Regions from separate parts of the Homo sapiens genome. Here region 2 is linked to region 1. Evidence: fine-mapped expression QTL. Tissue or cell type: whole blood. Region 1 holds a variant in brackets; the other region holds the start of a gene. All regions are shown on one strand. Distances are from middle to middle. Region 1 has its middle 6.6 kb from the start of PCARE. Region 2 holds the start of CLIP4 (CAP-Gly domain containing linker protein family member 4).

Evidence for each region. PIP is the estimated chance that this variant, and not a neighbour inherited with it, causes the effect.
Region 2: CLIP4 starts here. The variant in region 1 is fine-mapped to the expression of CLIP4 in whole blood (TOPMed, PIP 0.98).

The regions. Positions count from the first base shown.
Region 1 is chr2:29,078,411-29,083,785 of GRCh38, reverse strand. No RefSeq gene overlaps it. Among named protein-coding and RNA genes, the nearest start is that of PCARE, 6.6 kb to the right of the region's middle. RefSeq lists enhancers at 562-801, 2,572-3,072. The variant C/T (reference allele first, on the strand shown) is at 2,382.
Region 2 is chr2:29,112,584-29,117,958 of GRCh38, reverse strand. It overlaps CLIP4 (CAP-Gly domain containing linker protein family member 4), which reads right to left and starts at 2,544. Exons shown (of 16, transcript NM_024692.6): 1 at 2,294-2,544. It overlaps LOC105374386 (a long non-coding RNA gene), which reads left to right and starts at 3,215. Exons shown (of 3, transcript XR_007086265.1): 1 at 3,215-3,290. RefSeq lists silencers at 1,894-2,133, 2,324-2,683.

The sequences.
Region 1 (5,375 bases):
CGATAAGGAAAACAATTTGCATTTAAGTCTCATGTTAACATGTTAACGGTGCACTATGTCCAGGTTGATGGTCAGCACTAGAGGTAGACTGGTTCATTATTTTTGATTGCCTGGAGTTGGGCAAATTCTAAAAGTTTCAAGCTATCAAAAGTTAATCATGTGGCGGGGGGGGTGGTGCATGGAGGCTCACGCCTGTAATCCCAACACTTTGGGAGGCCGAGGCAGATGCATCATTTCAGGTCAGGAGTTCGAGACCAGCCTGGCCAACATGGTGAAACCCTATCTCTACTAAAAAGGCAAAAATTAGCTGGGCGGTAGTGGCACACACCTGTAATCCCAGCTATTCGGGAGGCTGAGGCAGGAGAATTGCTTGAGCCTGGCAAGCAGAGGTTGTGGTGAGCTGAGATCGGGTGACTACACTTCAGCCTGGGTGAGAGAGTGAGGCTCTGTCTCAAAAAAAAAAAAAAAGCTAATCATGTGTGAATCCTGCTCAGCAATGAAAACGTCTGAACTAATGATGCATACAGTAACATGAATGACCCTCAGTATAACCATGCTGAGAAAAAGAAACTAAACCAAAAAAATAAATCTGTATGAAATTCAAGGATGGGCACAGTGGCTCATGCCTATATTCCCAACACTTTGGGAGGCCAAGATGGGAGGATCACTAGAGGCCAGGAGTTTGAGACTAGCCTCAACAACATAGCGAGACCCTGTCTCTTTAAAAATTAGCCAGGCATGATGGTGCATGCCTGTGGTCCCAGCTACTCAAGAAGCTGAGGTGAGAGGGTCACTTGAGCCCAGGAAGTCAACACTGCAGTGAGTTGTGATGGCACCACTGCACTCCAGCTTGGATGACAAAGTAAAACCCTTTCTCTACAAAAATAAATTTTTAAATCCCAAACAATGCCAGCTAGTCCATAGTGACAGAAAGATGATCAACAATTGCCTAGGTGGATGAGAAGGGGTATATAGGGAGGGATTACAAAGGGCCATGAGGAAACTTTTGGGACTGTTGGATATGTTTATTATCTTGACTGTGGTGATGGTTTTGAGACAGCCAGGTGGGTGGGGGTCCCTGGAGAAACTCCAACCAGCCTACCCACTGAGGTGGAGCCTCGGGAAGTTCATGCCCTTTGCAGCGGGGAGGAGCCCTGTCCCTCCTCTTCCTGTATGGAACCTGGGATTCGAACGGTGGGTGGGAAGTGCTCTAGCAGGGACTCTGGTCTAGCGAGAGTCTGTTTCCCCCCTTTCTCTCTTTTTACCCAATAAAACCCCATCTTACTCAATGGTCTGCAAGCCTGAATTTTCAAGGCCATAGGACAAAGAACCCCGTCTTTAACTGAACTAAGGAAAAGTCCTGCAAAAGTTTCATGGATGCATGTGTGTGTGTAAACTCATCAAACTGTATATTTTAAATACATGTGTCAGTTATACCTCACTAACAGCACAAAGTAAAAAAAAAAGCTAATGATGTGAGCTGCTCATACAATTATTATTAAACATAGTTTAAATGTGTTCATAATATTGGTTCCCTTTTTCTATTTATTCGCATTTAATGTCAAAACACCAAAGAAGGGTTATTTGATGTACCTCAGGTTAGAGGCATGTTTGTTCTTGGTGTCTTTATTAGTAGTCTATTTTAAATGTTGACATTGTTGTAAATTAGAATCTACAGAGATCAACTCCCTGTTCTGCATAAATGCCAAAAGGATATTAATCTGGTCCAAAGATATGCTCCTTTCACAAGGCCGAAGTATTTTAATCATCACCTCCCTGGGTTATTCTTCAGAGTCAGTCTTGGGTAATTTATCTCCTTTAAATATTATTATGAATACTTATGGGTTTTTTTTAGGGGAGGGGGCCTATTTTTGTCATGGTAATTCTAAATGTATAAATAGAATTTTTTTTTAAGTCATGAGCAAGCAGGAATGAAATTTCCCAGCAATAACATTAAAAAGTTATAAGCAGGGTTATAAGCAGTGGTTGATGTCCCATTCCCCCGTTCAGCACAGACAAACCATCCTTATGGATAAATGTAAAGGGGAACTGAATCTGCTATCTGCTCTTCAGTCTAAGAGCAGACTTTAGACGAAGTTATAATACAATAAAAATTTAAATACTGTAACTTTTTCTGAGAAAAATGCACACAATATTTGAGTTGTCTACAATATTTCAAAGACTCTGAGCTAGTCTGACTCTTGTTGCATAACCCTGGGAAATTGTGAAACTCAGTTCTGACTTATGTCCCACTATGATGAATTCATATGACCCAATGTCTTTCCTCAAATTTGCCACACACACAAATGTCTACTCACAAATTCATAAGCAATAACTAGAGTGAAGAGTCTATTTTGAGAAGTTTGTACAAGTAGCAGCCA[C/T]TATCTTTCCAAAGCCCAGGGTACTGATGGTGGCGGTGGCCTATTTGGAGCAGCTGCTGTGGGGATGCCAGCTGCAGTGGGGAAGGTGAAGCTGGGGCTATGCGTTCCACCGAGCCAGAGGAGGGCAGTAATAGGTGGGAGTCCCGCCCCCTACCGAGTTGGCTGGTCAAGAGCACCTCACTCCCCAGTGCAGCAGCAGCCACATCAACACAGCTCCAGACCCGGGCATCCCTGTACTCTCAGGGGCATGGCTAGCCCCAAGCTCCCACAGGCTTGGAAGTGCCTGCTCCTACTCCCTGGCCTCTCCCAACTCCTGGCACCCGCTCCAATTTCAGAGCCTGAGCCTGGGTGCTGTCATGGCCCGGCTAGGTGTGTACACGCTCAGGGCAGCACTGACATGCCAGACATCCTCCACTGCCTTGGCACCTTCTGAAACTTTGAGCACCAACGAGCTCAGGAAGGGAGGCCAGGAGGGCTGAGGGAGGCTTAACGCAAGCCTGCAGGTGCCCCTTGGTGTGAACAGCCTGGGTGCCATGGAGGTCATGTTGATGGTGGCAGGAGTCAGACAGGTTCCTAGGAGGGAAGGGGTGGGTCCCCAGTGAAGCCCCACTTTCAAACCAGGGACAGCCTGAAGCCTGGGGGCCAGGCTTTCAGTCCCAGGTGGTGTCCATGACCCAGAGCGAAACTTTATGGTGCTTTTTCCAGGCACACCCATGGCCACCCATGGACCAATCATCACACAGTTCCTCCCTTCTGAGCCCATAAAATCCCTGGATTCAGCCACACTTGCATACTGGTCAGGATGACCTGCCTGTGGAAAGGAGCTGCCCACTATGGGTCTCCTCTCCACTGAGACCTGGACACTCATCAGCATGGCCTGCCTGTGGAAACGAGCTACTCACTTCGGGTCTCCTCAGAGCTATTCTGTCATTCAATGAAGCTCCTTACTATCTTGCTCACTCTCCAGTTATCCACGTGCCTCATTCTTCCTGGACATGGGACAAGAACTCAGGACCAGCTGAATGGTGGGACTGAAAGAGCTGTAACACAAACAGGCCTGAAACATGCCCCCCACTCACCACATTGTGAGTGACGAGAAGGAGAGAAGAGCTGCAGCCCTTCTGGGAGCCCAGACCTCAGGGATCCCCAAGTCATGGCTATGACATGCTGTAACTCCCTCTTTGGGGCTTTGTGGTTCCTGGTATCTGACCTTTCTGGTGTTATTGCTTTCCCCTTGTCCACATGCTGGTGCCCACAGCAGAAGCTGCTTGCAGTACGTCTGGTCCAGCTGCAGCCTTGCACAGAGCCGGCACCTGTGCGGGCGCCTGGAGCTGCCTGCCCCACCACAGCCGGCACACCTGGCTGTGTGCAGTGGCTGGACCCTGCACTTGCTCACTCACACACCCTGGCAGGTATGGGATCTGGGCTGAAAGCAGGAGCCACGCGCAACCTGATGGGCCAAGTGAGCAGAAGGAGCCCAGCAGGCATGAGCAAAACTGAAACAGAGGCACTGCTAGCCACAGAGGTTTCCAGCTGGCAAAGCAACACCCTAAGGATCCCATGACAGTACATACATGTAAAAGTAAATACACAAATAAACAACCAGTCAAAAGTCAAGAAATTCGAGTCTGCTCTTATTTCCCTACAGGGAATTAGCAAACCATCCCACAGTTCATAAGGACATTGACACAGTTTTCCCGTAGGTTCTTCTGATAACATGGCTGAGCAGTGGTCTTACAGTTTGGGAAGAATTCTCAATTAATTCCTTCCCTGTGTGCTGTGTTCTGACTCAAAGCCTAGCATTTCTTTCCCCAAGCTATCTTGTCTTCACACCAGAGCTAAGTTCCAGAGGACAGGGACAATCCTCTGTTACAGGTGGAGAGACTCATACCTAGGGGACAAAGGCAAAGATCTGAGGATATTTCACAGGCTTGGGGAGTAGAAGAAAAGGTAGGAATGAAGAAAGGGCCTGTGGACTACATTTCCCAGCCCTTTTTGCATCTAAGTAGGGCCATGTGATAAGTCCTGCCCATCAGAATGTAAGCAGAAATGATGGGTGTCAACTCCATGCAAAGACAGTCAAGGATCTGACCTACCTTCCCCATACTCTCTTCCCTTTCCGCCCTGTAAGTCATGTATTGAAGATGTTCATGTTCCAAGATGGAAGGGCTTAAATCCCTGAGTCACCATGTGGAGTAGGGCTGTTTAAGAGAATGTCCCAACACCTACACTGGCATTGTATAAACAATAATAACTCTTACTGTGCCAAGTCACTGATATTTGGGGATTGTTAGTTACAAAAGTTAGCCTACCCTTTAAAAAAAAAACTCTAATTTATATGTAAGAATTGAATCTATTTCAATAAAACACTTTCTATCATACAAAAAAACTAGATAAATGTTTTTCAAGCTTGTGGTACATTTAGGATACTTTGATTCTAAACATACACTACCTTGTGTACATGAAATTTGCTTTGGAGGATACTTAGAGGCATCTTAAAGGTTTAAAGAGTCAACCTCCAGAGGTACAATGTACCTGTGTGATGACTGATCCAGACCATACGCCATGCACACTAAGATTCAAGAAAAACAGGCAGGTGTTTCTACTATCATCACCAAATCAAAAGCTACTTAGGGCAGACACCTGGATATCACATGTTGGTTTCTGATAGAATTGTGTATCCCACGAGCAACTCTGGATGGATTGCTCTAAGGTATATAACAGTAGCCAGAATGGTTCTTTTAATGATCCTCCAAAGCAAAGCAAGGAAGGCCAGCTTCTGAAAAGATAAATGTAAAGTGAGTGCCTAATGAAGTGCGTGGGACACAAACATGGCCTCCTTCCCCGCCAGCTCACCACAATAGATGCGTGCTTATCTCTCTGTTACCTGTTCATCTCACATCCAGACCAAGGAACTGTGTTGCAAAAAGCACTCCTTCAGATATGGAGGACCAGGTATGTCCTAGGTAGGCCTTGACTAGTGGGAAATTTTTC
Region 2 (5,375 bases), 34 kb before region 1:
AGAGAGAATTAAAAATTGAAATACCTGCCCTGAAAAAGCTATTTATGCATTTAACAAATATTTATTCAGTTTTTCTTACTAAGTTCTAAGCTATGCAAAGGTAAAGAAACCAGATCTGTCCTTGCCCTCATATAAATTACAGCCTAGTGTTGATTCCTACCAGAAAGTTGAAAGTAGTAAGTGCTATGACCAAGGACAGCTGAGTCCTATGAAAGCACAGATTCAAGAGGGTCAACGAAGGCTTCCTGGAGACTAATAAGTTAAAGCTGTGGCATCTGACCAGCTAACTACTAGCCACATGTGACTATTTAAATTAATTTAAAAATTGGCCAGGTGCAGTGGCTCATGCCTGTAATCCCAACACTTCGGGAGGCCGAGATGGGCAGATCACTTCAGGTCAGGAGTTCGAGACCACCCTGGCCAATATGGTGAAACCCCACAGCAAAAATTAACAGGGTGTGGTAGCAGGCGCCTGTAATCCCAGCTGCTCGAGAGGCTCAGGCAGAACAATCGCTTGAACCTGGGAGGCAGAGATTGCAGTGAGGAGAGATCAGGCCACTGCACTGCAGCCTGGGTGACAGAGCAGAGCGAGACTCCGTCTCAAAAAAAAAAAACAAAAACAAAAAAAAGAGAGAGAGAAAAGGAAAAGAAAAAAAATATTAAAATTTCAGTGCTTCCACTGCTCTAGCCCCATTCAAGTGGTCAAAAGCTATATGTGGCTAGTGCTACCATATTGGGTAATGCAAAAAGAACATGTTTCTGGTCTCCGAAAGCTCTTCTAAACAGCACTGAAGGAAAACAGTGCAGCTCACTCTCCAGATGAGAAAACAATATACAAATGCCTGAAACAAGACACAAATAAAGGTTAACACACTAAAGCAAGCCTATAGCTCCATAGTTCATTATAAATAATTAACAAGGGAGCAGTAAGCCTAAAAGTAACCAGAGTTTGAGGTTTGAACAGGGAGAAAGAGTGAAGTTGATTTTATATAATCTAAAGATCACTAGTTTCAAACACGTGTCAAAATTGGAGTTGTCATAAGCTATGAGAGACAACATAGGTCACTTTTTTAAAAGCCCTTGCTGGTGGGACTGTATGTGGTAAACACAAAATGTCTGAAATGAATCCTACAAATAGAATACCATGGGCTAAATCTTCTACAAAACAGAAGTAAACACATTCCATGCATGGCTAGACTCAATCTTACAGTCCAGATAGACCGTATCAAATGAAAGCATTTAAAAAATGCATCATATTTACGAAAGCAAAATAAGCTGGAACCAGGATGGTTCTCCAACATAAAAACGCAGACCAACTAGACTCCAGCAGGTTCAAGTCTCTGCTTTCCTCCCCAGTTGCTCAATGCCCCGCACCACGTGATCCTGTGCTGTTTAGACGACTCACTTTAAATTGTGCACAAGATTCACAAACAACAAACGTCAAAGTGAAAGTGAAGTACAATTTAAGTGCTGGCGGATGTTCCTGAGGAAGGTGTTTACTGAAACCTTTCAAAGGCGCCCGTTTTATACGATGATGGTGCTACAATATGAACGCAGTCTAGTATCTCAGAACATACAGCAAGTTATTGTCCCATAGGAACATCATCCTCTGATACGTATCAAAACACTGTCTCAGCACAGAGCTGAAAACCAGAGTCTGGATGACGTGAACAGCCTGACATCTAATTCAAAGCTCTACCATCATAAGCAGTGAATGGGATCCTTAAGGATGCGGGCTCAGCTCCAGCGCTCCTTTCAACTTCCCCTCCCAGGTGCGGATGGTTCAGAATTAAGGGATCTCAGGTAGCCAAGGACTGCAAGGACAGCCATTTGGTTTAGCTTTGAAGACCCACTGGCCAAAGGTTTCTCGACAATTTAATGCGCAAGGGGAGTCAAGTGAGAAATGGGAAGAGGCCGCGTTGGAAAGCCACTGCGCGTGCGGGGACTCTCGGGGCAGCCGCGGCTGGCGGTCGTGGCCCAGAGCCCAGCTCCGCCGCCGGGTCCCGCACACCCCGCGCCCCTCAACCTAAAGTTGGGCCGTCCGTCAGCGGCCGCCACGAGGAGTCCCCATCCCCGCCGGGTGGGCCGCTCCGCCCCGAGAAGGCCTCCCCGCGGCCAGCGACACCGGTGCCCACGGGAGGCGGCCGCGGGGCTTCCACAGCCCCCAGCGCCTCTGCGCGACCCTCCCGGGGCCACTGACCTCCCCGCGGGCCCCCAGGGCCGCCCACCCCGGCCCCAACCCCGCCGCCGGCCAGCCCGCGGCCCGGGGGGGCCCCGCGCGCCCCCGGCCCACCTGCCTCCTCCGGGTCCTCTCGGAGCGGCCGGCTGGGGACGCGGGGGCGCGGAGGAAAGGCCGAGAGGCGCGCTCCCGCCGGCGCTGTCTCCCGTGGCCGCCCACGGAGCCTCCCGCCGCGCCGCTCCACACCTCTCCGGGCCCCTCCCGCTGCCTCCCACGCGGGGTGGGCGCGCGCGCAGTGCAGGCGGCCGGGCGGCGCGCAGGCCTCGGCCACGGCCCCGCGCACGCGCTGGGGACTCGGTGGGGACGGAGGAGGCAGCGCGCGCCTGCGCTGGCTCGCCTGGCTCCCGCGCCCCCGCACTCCCCAGCAGTCAGATGATCGGGCGCACGCGGGGCCGCGACCCCGGCTGACAGCGTCTGCGGGGTGTCGCAGTGTTACCTCCCCCGCCGCGAAGCCAGGCGGCCCCGGCACGCCGTGCGTGCCCACCGCCTTCACAGCCCTCAGCCTCGCGGCCTCACGTCTCTAACCTGCGGCGCCCCCACCAGCTGCTGGGGCCGGGGACCTAGTCTTACCCGTCTTGGGCTCCCCAGAGTCCAGCCGAGCGTGGTCAAGAGTACATCCACCAGTTCCCTGCTGGCAGCGCTTGCTGTAAAAGGCCTAATCCGTGCTACACCCACGTTGAGCAATTAGTTCATATCTCCTGCGGCTTTGCTGCCTCTTCACCCACGTTTTCTCCTGACCCCTTCTCCGTCTCCCAAGGACCAGACAGGGTGAAACTGTGCACCTAAAGTCGTGAACTCTGACAGCCTGACTCTCTGTCATCTGGTAACAAGAAAGCGTTACTGGACACATAGTGAGTCCCCTTAATGAGGAGACCTAGTAAGACCATGACCGAAGTTTGAAACATGGAGACAACAGTGTTACATCTATCAGCTGTCTCTGAGGCCTACAGCGGCTGCTTCATAGAGGCTGTACTTCTGTGTTCAGCGCGCACAGTGCCTGGCAGGAACAGATGTTGAATGAACGTCTGTCAGTGTCTCTGCAAGAGCAGAGGTAAGCGCTCACCGCACCCCGGAGCATCTTTTCCTGTTAGAATCATTGATTTCAGGGACTGGAAAAAGCCCCCTTCCCACTTGCCTGAATCCTCCTTACAGTGTCTTCCCACCAAGCAGTGGTTGAACACCTCCACTAACAAGGAACTCATTACCTTTTAAGGCAGCCATTTAATCTTTGATCAGCCTTTTGGAAATTTTCTACCTTAGGAGCTAAAATCCAGCTCCCTGCATCTCTCCCTCACTGGATTTTGTTTCTGCCCTGGGGACTCTTAAGTCTGACTCCAATTCATCCAAGACACACATTACCTGTCCCTTAGGCTACTCCTGATATGACCTGGTCACAATCCCACTCACCAGCATGTTGAGGGATTCTCTTGGATGCATTCCAGCTTGTCCAGAGCTCTCTTAAATGTGATTATCAGGAATGAGTGGGTGGCCTGCCAAGTGCGGAGAGGAAAGAGACTGCCACCTCTTCTTAGGTCCTATGCTTAACAACATTCACCATATCAAAATAGTTGCTAGGAGCAGTCACATCACATTGTTGAATCGGGTGGAGCACACTTGACTAAAACCCACAATATTTGAATACATGACCATCCCTGACCCTGGTCAGCTGCCAGTTTCTCTGTCTCTGCAGGCTCAGCATCTGCGAGTGCTCTCAGAGATAATGTGACACGGATACTTCCTCCTCCCTCTGAAGAGTCCACCTCCCTTTCCCTGCTTTCATCATACCCTCTTCTTGTCTGACCCACCCATCTCTTTAGCTGGTTAAAAGAAGGAAGGCAATCTGCCCTTGGTTGGCTTCAAGCACCTATAAATGAGGCCAATTGTCATTGAACCACAGAAAGTCATAAAGATCTGTGTGTAACAGAGTAGCTATTGGTGAAGTTTCCAAACGTATACAGTTCACTTTTATTGCTGATTTAAATTATCCATCTGAAATACCACTATTAGTAGGTGACAAGGCATGGCTAGCTCAGTTGTTCTTAGTTATAATAAAGATCTCTGTTAGAACCAGCCAGGCCACTGGCTTTATCTGCTACACCCAAACACTGTATGATACATAGGCAAATTCCCAGGATACCAAGCCACCAGAGTCTCCCACTCACTTAGTTGCCTTTGTTCAAAAATCTGACGTTACTTCTTTATACCATCATCAAGAATGCAAGTGCTCGTTGGAGTCATGCTTCCTAGAATACCTCGTGACATACAAGCTTTAGAACCAGGTATTGCCCAGTTAACCAGAGTGAGACTGGACAATGATATGTGGCCAGAACTTGGAACTTGAACTATTCATTGGGGTGGGAAGGCACATGGGGATGTGGACCAACTGTAGCTGCTGAGATTCAATTCTATCTGGAGACACAAAGTTCCTGAAAAGTATAGCAATAATCCACAGCGTCAGGAGGTGATCAACTTACTGGTCAACATCACAGTGTGGAGAAAGGGCATTACTCACTGACCACTGTAAGGCACTTGACCTATGGAAATCTTGTCTTCACTTTACAAATGAAGAAGCAGACTCTGGGAGGCTGCGTGACTTGCTCCATGTAGCCAGGGGCAGAAATAAGATTCAAACCTAAGTCTGTCTGATCTGAAGGCCTATGTTGATTCACTACTTTGCTAACCTACACAGGCTGTCTTTGGGGGCATTAAAGACCCAGAATGGCTGCATAGAGCAGCATTCAGGAATTCAGACACTCGGCAGCAGGAAGATCTGTCAGCAGCTCTCAGGACCCCGACCATGATAAAAGGGTTAGAGGAAATAGCAAAAGAAGACAAGGTCACTGCTTTTACATGGACTGGATATGGGATGGAATATCATCAGTTTCTAATTTGTGAGTGTATAGGGGGCCTAGGCCCTTAGGACCATGAGAGACACCCAACTGTCAGAATTGGGGCACCAGATTGGAGTTCAACTAGCAGAAGTGCTTAAATGCAAAAGATCAGAGCACTGGGCAGAGCCCCTAATATCTTCCTGTCTGTGATGTTTACAGGTGTGATCATCAGCATAAAAAGCCCAACAGAATCAACAAAGTATTAGAAGTAATGTTAGCTCAGCAAGGTTGCCAAGTACAAGATC